Linked DNA regions of Homo sapiens. The protein of the gene in region 1 interacts with the protein of each later gene in a pairwise test. Each region holds a gene or a part of one and is shown on either strand. Other genes may lie near its edges. The genes, in order: BNIP3L, HTR2B and KLHL23.

Region 1 (3,656 bases):
CCATGGAGATGTTGTACAACTGTGTCGTTTGGCAGCAGAGTCCTAAGGAATTGGTGGTGACTATGGGATGGTGGTAGCCACTGGGGCTGCCTCAAATGGAAAGGAAAGGGTTCTAAGTATTTATAAAAGAAAATTCTAGTGTATAACTGAGCATCTTCTATTTACCAGCACTTGATACTACTAAATCGTCACAGCACCCCGGTGTTATTATTATCTCTGTTTACAAATGAGGAAGCTGAAGCTCAGGTCACACAGGTAGACAGGAAGTGATGGGGTCAGATTCCCAGCTAGGTCTGCCTTGGAGCTTTCCTTCTTGTGAGGGTGATGTTCAGTTCACTCTGGAACTGGTGTAGCCATCGCCACATTTAGAGTGCATTTTAGAGTTTGAGCCAGTTTTGATGATTTTACTTCAACTTACTGATGGAACTCCTTGTTCATCCCTGGAACTCTCTAACACTTCTGCTGGGAGTTTAGAGGGATGGCCACACCAAGCTGCTTGGGTACATTTTCTAAAACAAAATTTATTGTAAGAAATGGAAATTATGAACAAAATATACCACTATCTCTTTTTGCTGTGAAGTTAAGTTTATTGGCTACTGTTAACAATTTATTTACTTACTTACTTACTATTCTTTTGTAGAGACAGGGTCTTGCCATGTTCCCCAGGCTGGTGTCAAACTCCTGGATTCAAGCAATCCTGGTGCCTCAGCCTCCCAAAGTGCTGGGATTACATGTGTGAGCCACTGTACCTGGCCTCAACTCTTGTTAAAATTAAAGCACCTTAATACGTTTAGCAAACTCATCAGACCAATAAATATTTTCAAGATGTATGCAGAATTACCAGTGGCACATCCCCTTTTTCTGTGGCTCCACCCCTTCAACTTTTTGTCCAAGAAAACTTTTCGTGTTTGCCTGTAGCTGATGTGCAGTTGTTTCTGCTCCCAAATCAACAGGGTTTAATGAAAACCCTAGAAAGTAGAAACCCGTGGGAGAGAAAAGAAAAAAGACAAGTTCACAAGGTATGTTTAGTGTATAAAAAAGGAGAAGGACTAGAAAGCCTGAGATACAAAGGAAATGAAGAAACTAATCAGTGAGATAGAGATAAAGCTTTTTTCTGAATTTTTAGCATTATTACCTGATTTAGTTAACCAGCTGCATTAATTTTATGCTCCTGATTTGTGCACAAATTGAAATTTTTGCTATTGGATTTAGGTTCCCTCTCTAGGAGTTTCTCAGTTGTTTGCACTAAGTAGGATATAGTTGCTAACTTACTTAGATGACCTTTTATGAAATTTGTAGGTGATATATTTATTTCATTTCTGGAGCAGATACAGCTGAGCAGCTTAGGTAGACTATGAAGAAAGTGTGTGTGTATATATACACCAACTAAAATGTTAAAGGTAAATAGCCTAAAAGTAGCAATTTTTTTTTGAAAAGCAACCTGAGTTTTCAGTAGAGTGTTATTATAAACCAAGCTTTACCCAGAGAGAAATTGACTGAAAAACACGTTTTCTGAGATGTTTTAGAGTTTGAGCTGTTTCTCAGTTGATGGCATGAGCTATTTCAGGAACAGAACTATATAGATCTTTAGACTTTTATTACTTCTTATTTATTTTCTTCAGAATACTTTTACATTTGGTTTGAGGAGAGTCAGAATTCTTATCTGGATTCACCATGTTCACATCTGTGTGCACATGACAGATTTCAGTTCTGCTGTGGTTAACTTATCTGACTTGTCCAACAGGTTCCTGGGTGGAGCTACCCATGAACAGCAGCAATGGCAATGATAATGGCAATGGGAAAAATGGGGGGCTGGAACACGTACCATCCTCATCCTCCATCCACAATGGAGACATGGAGAAGATTCTTTTGGATGCACAACATGAATCAGGACAGAGTAGTTCCAGAGGCAGTTCTCACTGTGACAGGTAAGTGAGACCCATGTTTTGGTGGAATTCAGGAAACAGGTGGGTTACAGGGCTCATTCACTCTAGGAAAAATCTGTTTGCTTAAATCTTCACTTAGCAAAATATGCCTCCTGATATATTGTAGTATAATATATATTGCACAGATATATATTGTGTTTATATGAGACAGCTAATTGACAGGTGCTTCAGTGCCCACTGTTTTTCCCCAGATTGTCATTTTTCTTACCCAGATTATATTGTTTCTAGCAGTTTATCAGTTTAAAATTCAGTGGCATAAATGCTAATTTATAGAATTAATCTGACTTTCCCCCATTTTCCTTTGTGTCCCTGTGTTACAGATCACAGACTGTTCTTGAATTAGTTACCTCTGTATATATGTGTCTTCCCTTCTAGATGTTGACGTTGCAAAGGGCAGGGGCCATGTTTAATTTTTATTACCTTCACAGTAATGGTGCTGGCACGTAGTAGACACTCAGTAAATGTTTGATTCATAGGAACTGCAGGTTGCTTCACGTTATAGCAATATTTGCACAGTTGGAAGCACCAACCAAGGTCTGTAAAGATAGTTTTGAAGTCTCCTCTGCTTTCTCAGGGGATGTTTTGTTTCAGACCTCATTTTTCTATATTTGAGCTGAAGAAACTAATTACATGGATTAAGGACTGCTTATGGTGAAAGAGTAAGAATACAACGAGATATGTGTGTGGAATGAAACCAGGTCATTATTTTTTAGTATAAACTTTTCTGTTTTTTTTTTTTTTTTTCAGAAGGGCTAGATATTAAATGACATTTAAGAAATTCTTGTTTCAGTGACAGCTACACTGTTAGCATTATGGGGCACTGGATGACCTTCTGGGTGGTTGTTAACTGATGTTAACCATTTAGAAAATGCAAATGCACGGGAAGCAGATTAAGGAAATGTAAACAGTGACTATTTTTAGGAATGCAGTATGGATATGTTTCTTCTTAACATTTTTGTATTTTGTAAAAATTGTGTATATTGCACATATTATTACTTATCAGAAGAAGTGAAAAAAAGGAGAAATGAGTTAAATCATGTCCAACTTCCTGAGTGGCTTATGATCCACTAATGTTGCCAAGGCAGCGGGGGACTGGTTTGTTGGCTCTGTGGCACACTGTGCACCCCCGCCACCCCCGTGTCATCCCTGACTTGTCCCTGTGCTTCTTAGAGCCTGGGATGGCTCTTGTCATAAGCGGAACCAGAGCAGATGGCTCTCTTCTGAACAGCTTGCCCTTGATTCCAGTAGCTACAGCATTAGTCTGTCTTTCCGAATGAAGATTTATATTTATATTATGGAACTTGCTGATGGGTTTCTCAAGTTTTCTGCTTGTTATGGCCTGTCAACAAGGCTTTCACTCTGCGTTCAGGTGTGTGGGCCTTGATCATTGATACCATGGTGTCCATGAGCCTGTTGTTCACATGGTGCTGTCAATGAGCAGAGAACAGTCACCTGCTTACCTGTCTGTTCATCTTACTTCATTTATGGTGCAGTTTTACGTGTGACTGAATATGCCTTCACCCTCCTATGATCATGTTTAAGTTTAGGTTGCCATGAGGAGGCATGGCAAATGCTTTTGAACACTTTCGTACCCCTCATCTTATGTCTCTCCAGGCCCTAGATTAGTGGTCATCTTTCAGAGAATGGCTAGAACTCGAGTCTTCTGGGATAGCCTACTAACACGCTTTACCATTGAGGAGTGTCTTCAAA
Region 2 (3,656 bases), on another chromosome or scaffold:
ATAATTAACAGTCTTTCTATCTCCCTGTTTTATAAATTTGTAATCTTTTAAATAATCTAATGCTGCATGAAACCATGAAAAATAATTAAGAAATCTTACTATAATAGAGAACATAACCCTAATTCTGAATAAAGCTTAAAAGAAAGTATTATGTAGAAATATATATGCATATTTGATAAATACTGTACAGGCATATGATTCTAGCTCTCATCTCCATGTGCATAATAGTAGCTTAAGATGTAAAATCATACTCTTCAAACTGTGCTTTGCTAGGCACACAGAAAATGTCAAAATGCTTATTTCAGACTACCATAAAATTTAATACGTCATTCAATACATGATATTGAAAGAATTATGCAGAAGTGAATTTTAGCTTTAAAATCTTTGAGTCCATAAATATCAAACATCTATTATATGCAAAGTACCATGGTAGATACTTAAATTATCAGCTAAATAGTTAAGGAATCTTAAAAGGCAAAGTACCATAGAATTAAAGTGAGCTAACAAACAAAATACAAAAACAGGTAACAAAGATTTACCTGTTTAATAGATTCCATGTATTCTATAGAAAAATAGGTATCCAGCAGCTGAAAACTTTAAGTGTATATTTAAAATGCTGGTACCCAACATATCCTTAGCAATACAAGTTAGCAGAAAACCCAACATATGTTAACATAAAATATGTGAAATGTCTTCATATTTATGTCTTAAATAATTGATAGACATTTTAATATTATTTCATTCTTCCAAATGTTTATTAACTTTAAATTTATTTTTATTTATTTATTTTAATAGAGATGGAGTCTGGCAATGTTGCCTGGGCTGGCCTCAAACTCCTGGGTTCAAGTGATCCTCTGCCTTCAGCCTCTTAAGTAGCTAGGATTACAGGCACATTCCACCATGCCTGGCTCATGTTTGTTAATTTCTAATTACAAAATAAAATATTTTATAGCCCCAAACACTTTTACTATCAGAAATAAGTTGTATAGTGGGGTTTGTAGATTTTTAAAAAATGAACAAATCTGTGAACTACTATCTAATACATTATTGCATTATTTAAAGCATAATTCAATTTCTATGAAAAAATGTAGGAAAAAAACACATGTTGCCCTCTAACAAACTTCAAAGGATGAATTCATAAATTGGGAACTGCATGTATTACAAATGGAAACCTGACTTCAAATACCAAGATATTTTTATAACCTTTTGCAAGTTAATAAACACAAAGATTTTTCTAAACTAATGCATTTATAAGAACTTCTGATAACTTTAAAAGGCAGAATTAGACTTTACACTCTTATTGTAGTGTTAATCTTTAGGACTTCTAACGTTTGTACAAACAAGCGTTCTTGGTTCTATGATAAAAGATTAACTATCACTATGAGCAATAATTTTAGCTATCGCAGGGGAATTCAATGAAAGTAACACAAAAACTATACTAGCTCGTAGTCTAATAAAATGAAATTTTAAAAATAAGAGCAGTAAAATATAAAAGTGGACCTTCTGTCCTTATACTGAGAGATATTTTATTCAACCACTGATCTGTATAATATTTAACAATATACGGTTTGAATTCATATTTTCCCAAGATTATGACAACTCAGGCACAACATTGTCTTTCAAATGAGTTGTGCTAGGTCAATTTTTCTGCCACTTCTTCCTATCTGGGAGCACTGGACTTGATCTTTACAGTTGTAGTTTTTTATTGTCTTGTCCATAATTCCTAAAATCCATGATCACAAATCAACAGCTTATAACACAAGGCTTGAAAATACCTACGTTAGAAATACTTGAGCAAGAAAACAACACCTTATGCTGATATAAAAAAGACAGGATGTTCACCATTTAAGAGCTTCTCTGAATCTTTGTTTCATTTTATAAGTGATTTAAAAAGTAACAGGGGAGGCTGGGCACGGTGGCTCATGCCTGTAACCCCAGCACTTTAGGAGGCTGAAACGGATGGATCACCTGAGGTCAGGAGTTCGAGACCAGCCTGGCCAAGATGGCGAAACCCTGTCCCTACTAAAAATACAAAAATTAGCTGGGCATGGTGGTACGCGCCTGTAGTCCCAGCTACTCGGGAGACTGAGGCAGGAGAATAGCTTGAACCCGGAAGACAGAGTTGCAGTGAGCCGAGATGGTGCCACTGCACTCCAGCCTGGGTGACGGGGTGAGGCTCTGTCTCAGGGAAAAAAAAAAAAAAAAGTAACACGGGAAGATATGGCATCTGGCCATCCATTGGGTGTTATTGGTTTATTTATAAGTTTTTTTTTTTTTTTTTTTTTTGAGACGGAGTCTCGTTCTGTTGCCCAGACTGCAGGGCAGTGGCATGATCTCAGTTCACTGCAACCTCCACCCACAGGTTCAAACGATTCTCCTGCCTCAGCCTCCCGAGTAGCTGGGACTACAGGCGCAGGCCACCACACCTGGCTAAGTTTTGTATTTTTAGTAGAGATGGGGTTTTGCCACTTTGGCCAGGCTGGTCTTGAACTCCTGACCTCAGGTGATCCACCTGCCTCGGCCTCCCAAAGTGTTGGGATTACAGACATGAGCCACCAAACCTGGCTATAACTTAAGTTTCAATTGATGCCTCATGATCTATAAGTTCAAACAGTATCCGTGGTATAGCTGAAAGAGTATATAAAATGGCTGAAAGATGGCTGTTTGAAGCAAGACATCCCAGGGTCTGAATCCTGGTTCTCCCGTGTTGGATCAGGCAAGTCACTTATTATTTCAGAGTTCAATCACTTATTATTTCAGAGCTCAATCACCTTGTCAAGCAGGGCCCAGCATCTTATAAGCACTAATAGTAACTGGTAGAGTACTGCATGCAAATTAAATATGATTTAGTTGAGATGCAAGTCTAATCAGAGATGAAACAAATGTATAGCAGTAAGAGAAAAATGGCAGTTATTCATTTATGCAGTAAAATGTTAGCCTACCCAATTCTGAAATGGAGGAGAAAAGCAATGAATTAAAGGCACTTCTTTTTGTAAAGTGGAAATTTTAAAAACCAGGAAAAAATTCTGTAAGCATTAAAATGCTTAAAACATTTAAAACACTATCATATTAGACACTGAACCCCAGGATAACTCATATGCTCAAATGTAGTGAAAAAAGTAAAAAACAAAACAGAAACTTTTAAACAATAATTTGAACTGAACTATGTCTTTCTTTTCTGGAAGATAAAGACAGAAGCATTAGAATTTCTGAGATAAATGTATATTTGAAAATTATGTTCTTTTTGGACATAAGAAGTATTTATGATTTGTCCTGCTGCAATAAGTTCATGAACTGAGTACCTCTGTAAACTATAGGAACAGCCCACTTGGAATGCCTTTAAAAATAGTCTTTTACATCCTCCAAAGGGAAACATTTTATGTCCCAGATTTATGGACTGATGCTAATTATTTTCCGGACAAATAGTGTAACCTGACTTCCCAAACTAAAAAGCTGCCCAAAGGTTAAGCAGGTTTCAGATAAAATAAGTCTGCCTCATCAAGATACGGGGTTTCTAGTAAAACTCCTCAGGTTTTTGTACTAATTCAAAAGAAAGCAAAAACAAACAAAAAAATACCCAAACCAACAAAAAACCCAGGCATGCAATGCATACAGGTTATTTTCCTGTACCGTATATAAAATAAACAGCAGTTAAA
Region 3 (3,656 bases), on another chromosome or scaffold:
CACGTCACTGACCTAGGGGGCCTGTGCCGTTGTTTTTCTTGCTCCCAGCTGGCTTTGCTCAGCTAGTCTGTTAAATCCTTAAGCTCTTGAAGGCTGTGCATCTGCATCCACTGAATTATAGCAAGGTTTGTTTCTTAAGGATTTTAGCAGTACCTCCTGAGGAATTAAAATGTCATCCTTGAGTTGACTTCATAGAGATACATTGCTTACACTGAGAAGAAATGACTACTATTATTTTTTAAAGATAATATAAGTATTATATTTTATCTTAACCCCTTTAATGGGGTAGTTTGTGTAATTGGAAAACATGGGACTATAGTTGCATTGAATTCAAGGTGACATTTATTGAGACCCTACATTGGAAAAGGTAGGATTCTGATAATTATGTAAGATGATTAAGTGTTAGTCTTTACTGCCGTAGGAGCTCAGAATCCAGGAGCAAATATACATACATAATGGAAATACAGGACAGTCTCTGCTAAGTTCTGTAAAAACAAGTGCTATTGAAATTGAGAATAAAAAGAGTGTAAGTCTAATTAAGGGAAATCTGACTATCTTAGAATGCTTCCAACGGTAGGTGGTTATGAGCTGGGCCTTAAAGAATGGCCCCAAATAAGGAAGGTAGTTTTTGAGGAAGGGTTTTTCTGGCAAGAAGTCAGCCCAGTGGAGGAAGGTGGAAAGGAAAGTTTCAGGTGTATTCCATTACCTGGGAGCAGACATGAATGAATGGAATGTAAGAGGGTAGAATGGGAGATCGGATGGGAGAGTTCAGTTGGAGAGCATGTCATGGAGAGCTTTGAATGGCAGTCTGGGTAATTTTTTTTTTTTTTGAGATGGAGTCTTGCTGTGTTGCCCAGGCTGGAGTGCAGTGGTGTGATCTCGGCTAACCGCAACATCCGCATCCCAGGTTCAAGGTATTCTCCTGCCTCAACGTCCCAAGTAGCTGAGATTACAGGCGCTGCTACTTTGCCCGGCTAATTTTTCATATTTTTAGTAGAGATGGGGTTTCACCGTGTTAGCCAGGCTGGTCTCAAACTCCTGACCTTGTGATTCACCTTCCTCAGCCTCCCAAAGTGCTGGGATTACAGGCTTGAGCCACCACAACCAGCTCAGTCTGGGTAATTTTTAAAATGCAGAATCATAAAGGTTTTCGAGCAAGAGAATGATGTGTGATCAGCTCTAGGTTTTTGTTTTTTGTTTTTTTTTTTTTAAAGACAGTCTCGCTCTGTTGCTTAGGCTGGAGTGCAGTGGCACAATCTTGGGTTCAGCGATTCTTGTGTCTCAGCCTCCCAGGTAGCTGGGATTACAGGCATGCACCACCACGCCTGGCTAATTTTTGTATTTTTTTTTAGTAGAGACGGGGTTTCACTATGTTGGCCAGGCTGGTCTTGAACTCCTGGCCTAAAGTCATCCACCCGCCTCAGCCTCCCAAAGCACTGGGCCACTGCACCTGGCCCAGCTCTGGTTTTAAGAAGAGAACTCTTGGCTGGGCGCGGTGGCTCACGCCTGTAATCCCTGCACTTTGGGAGGCCAAGGTGGGCGGATCATGAGGTCAGGAGATCGAGACCATCCTGGCTAACATGGTGAAACCCCATCTCTACTAAAAATACAAAAAAATTAGCTGGGCATGGTGGCGGGCACCTGTAGTCCTAGCTACTCGGGAGGCTGAGCCAGGAGAATGGTGTGAACCCGGGAGGCAGAGCTTGCAGTGAGCTGAAGATCGTGCCCCTGCACTCCAGCCTGGGTGACAGAGTGAGACTCCGTCTCAAAAAAAAAAAAAAAAAAAAAAAAAAGGAAGAGAACTCCTTTTAGGTAGATTGGGAGAAAGACAGCAAGGGGATCTACTAACACTATTGTGTTTAACCAAGGGAGAAATGCTGAAAGCCTGAAGAAGTGGTAGGAGTAGAAAAGAGGGGCCGATGTGAGGAATGTCATAGATTCAACAGCTGATTGCTTCCTTGGCTGACAGCATACAGGAGATGAAGGAGAGAAAGGAGTTGACAGTCGTCTCAGGGTCTCTGGCCGGTTGTCTGAGAGAATGAGGTATACTGAAGGAGAAGCTGACAGGAAGGGAGAAGAGGGGAGATGATGAGCTCGATTTTATAGTTTAGAGCAAAGGAATCATTGGATAACCCAAAAGAGCTGTCCAGCAGGCAAAGGGAAATGTGGGTTTGCAGCTGAGAAGGAGGGAGGTAGCTGAATGTAGAGATCTGGGGATTGTTTGCTTGGATGGTGGCTCTGGGTATGGGGATGAATAAGATGCCTTGGTAGGGTGGGACCAGCAATACAGCTATGGGCAGAATCCTAGGAAACGGGCAGAGTTGAGGGATAAGCTGAGGAACAAGAGGGTGTGAAGAGCCGAGAGGAAGCAGTATGTGATAAAGGAGGACCTGTGGAGAGTTGTGTGAAGTGGGGAGAGAACTTTCCTGGCCCTGCCATTTATTTACCTGCCTTGCCATCGGCAAGTAGACTAAGCTCTTGGGCCTTACCTTCCAGTGAAATCAGAAAGTTAGACTACATAAACTTTACAGGCTCTTCAATGAGAAAAGATCTTAGGAAAAAAAATTGAAATCAATTCAAATGGATATTGTGGTTTTCTCTGAATCCCTCTAGCTGTTTGTTCATATCACTCATCTAACACTGAATACAGACTGCTGTGTGTTGATGTTTTATACTTCTGTGTAAACTTTTGAGCCGTGACAGATGGTGTCACTCCCATTCTTGATTATTCATTTGTTCACTCATTCATGTCTAACATATCTGCTGTGTGCATCCTACATGCTGCTATATACTCAGTGCTAGGAGCACAGTGAGCAAGGCACAGTCCCAGAGCCTCAGTGGCTTAGAGGGGTTAACTAACAAGAAAAAACGCAATTACAGCTCAGGAAGAAAAAGTTCCTATCCACAACAATAGAACATGTGTTGTATTTGAGTAAAAGAGAAAAAATGATTAGGAATCACTTTACTTAAATATTTTTACTGCTATAGGAAGACAGATGGCTTTCTTAACATATGAATCAAAAATTGGGGTGTTTTGATAAACTTCAAGTAATTTAAGAAAAGCCTAGTGAGTGATGTTGAATCACTTTTACCAACTGATAAAATATTTGAACTATCATTTTCACAATAACCATTAGTTGAATGATTCATATAATTGATATAAGCAGTGTTTCACAAGTACTTGAAACAAGTAAATCCTATAAAAATTCAACATATAAATAACTGGAAAGTAAAAAATGAGTTTTTAACAAGTAGGATAATTATTTTCTTGGATGTCAGTAACGAGAAAAATATGTGGAAATGAAGCAAAAATGCAATCTTCTAAGACTTTCCTTAGCTGTCAAAACCTAGGGAGGGCCAGGCACGGTGGCTCACGCCTGTAATCTCAGTGCATTATTTGAGTCCAGGAGTTCAAGACTAGCACCTGGGCAACATGGCAAAACCCCATCTCTATTAAAAATACAAAAATTAGCCAGGCATGGTGGTGCGCACCCGTAATCTCAGCTACAGTGCACACCTGTAATCTTGGCTACTTGGGTGGCTGAAGCATAAGAATCACTTGAACCCGGGAAGCAGAGGTTGCAGTGAGCCGAGATTGCGCCACTGCACTCCAGCCTGGGAGACAGAGCGAGACTCTGTCTCTAAAAAAAAAAAAA

The links.
Region 2: the proteins of BNIP3L (region 1) and HTR2B interact in a two-hybrid assay, tested with the Homo sapiens proteins (one large-scale study listed by BioGRID and IntAct).
Region 3: the proteins of BNIP3L (region 1) and KLHL23 interact in a two-hybrid assay, tested with the Homo sapiens proteins (one large-scale study listed by BioGRID and IntAct).

Annotation. Positions count from the first base shown.
Region 1 is NC_000008.11:26,389,499-26,393,154, forward strand, and holds part of BNIP3L (BCL2/adenovirus E1B 19 kDa protein-interacting protein 3-like), read left to right. Parts: intron 1-914; exon of another isoform or gene 915-1,019; intron 1,020-1,744; coding exon 1,745-1,928; intron 1,929-3,656.
Region 2 is NC_000002.12:231,118,500-231,122,155, reverse strand, and holds part of HTR2B (5-hydroxytryptamine receptor 2B), read left to right. Parts: intron 1-3,656. UniProt on the Homo sapiens protein: G-protein coupled receptor for 5-hydroxytryptamine (serotonin). Also functions as a receptor for various ergot alkaloid derivatives and psychoactive substances.
Region 3 is NC_000002.12:169,743,747-169,747,402, forward strand, and holds part of KLHL23 (kelch-like protein 23), read left to right. Parts: intron 1-3,656.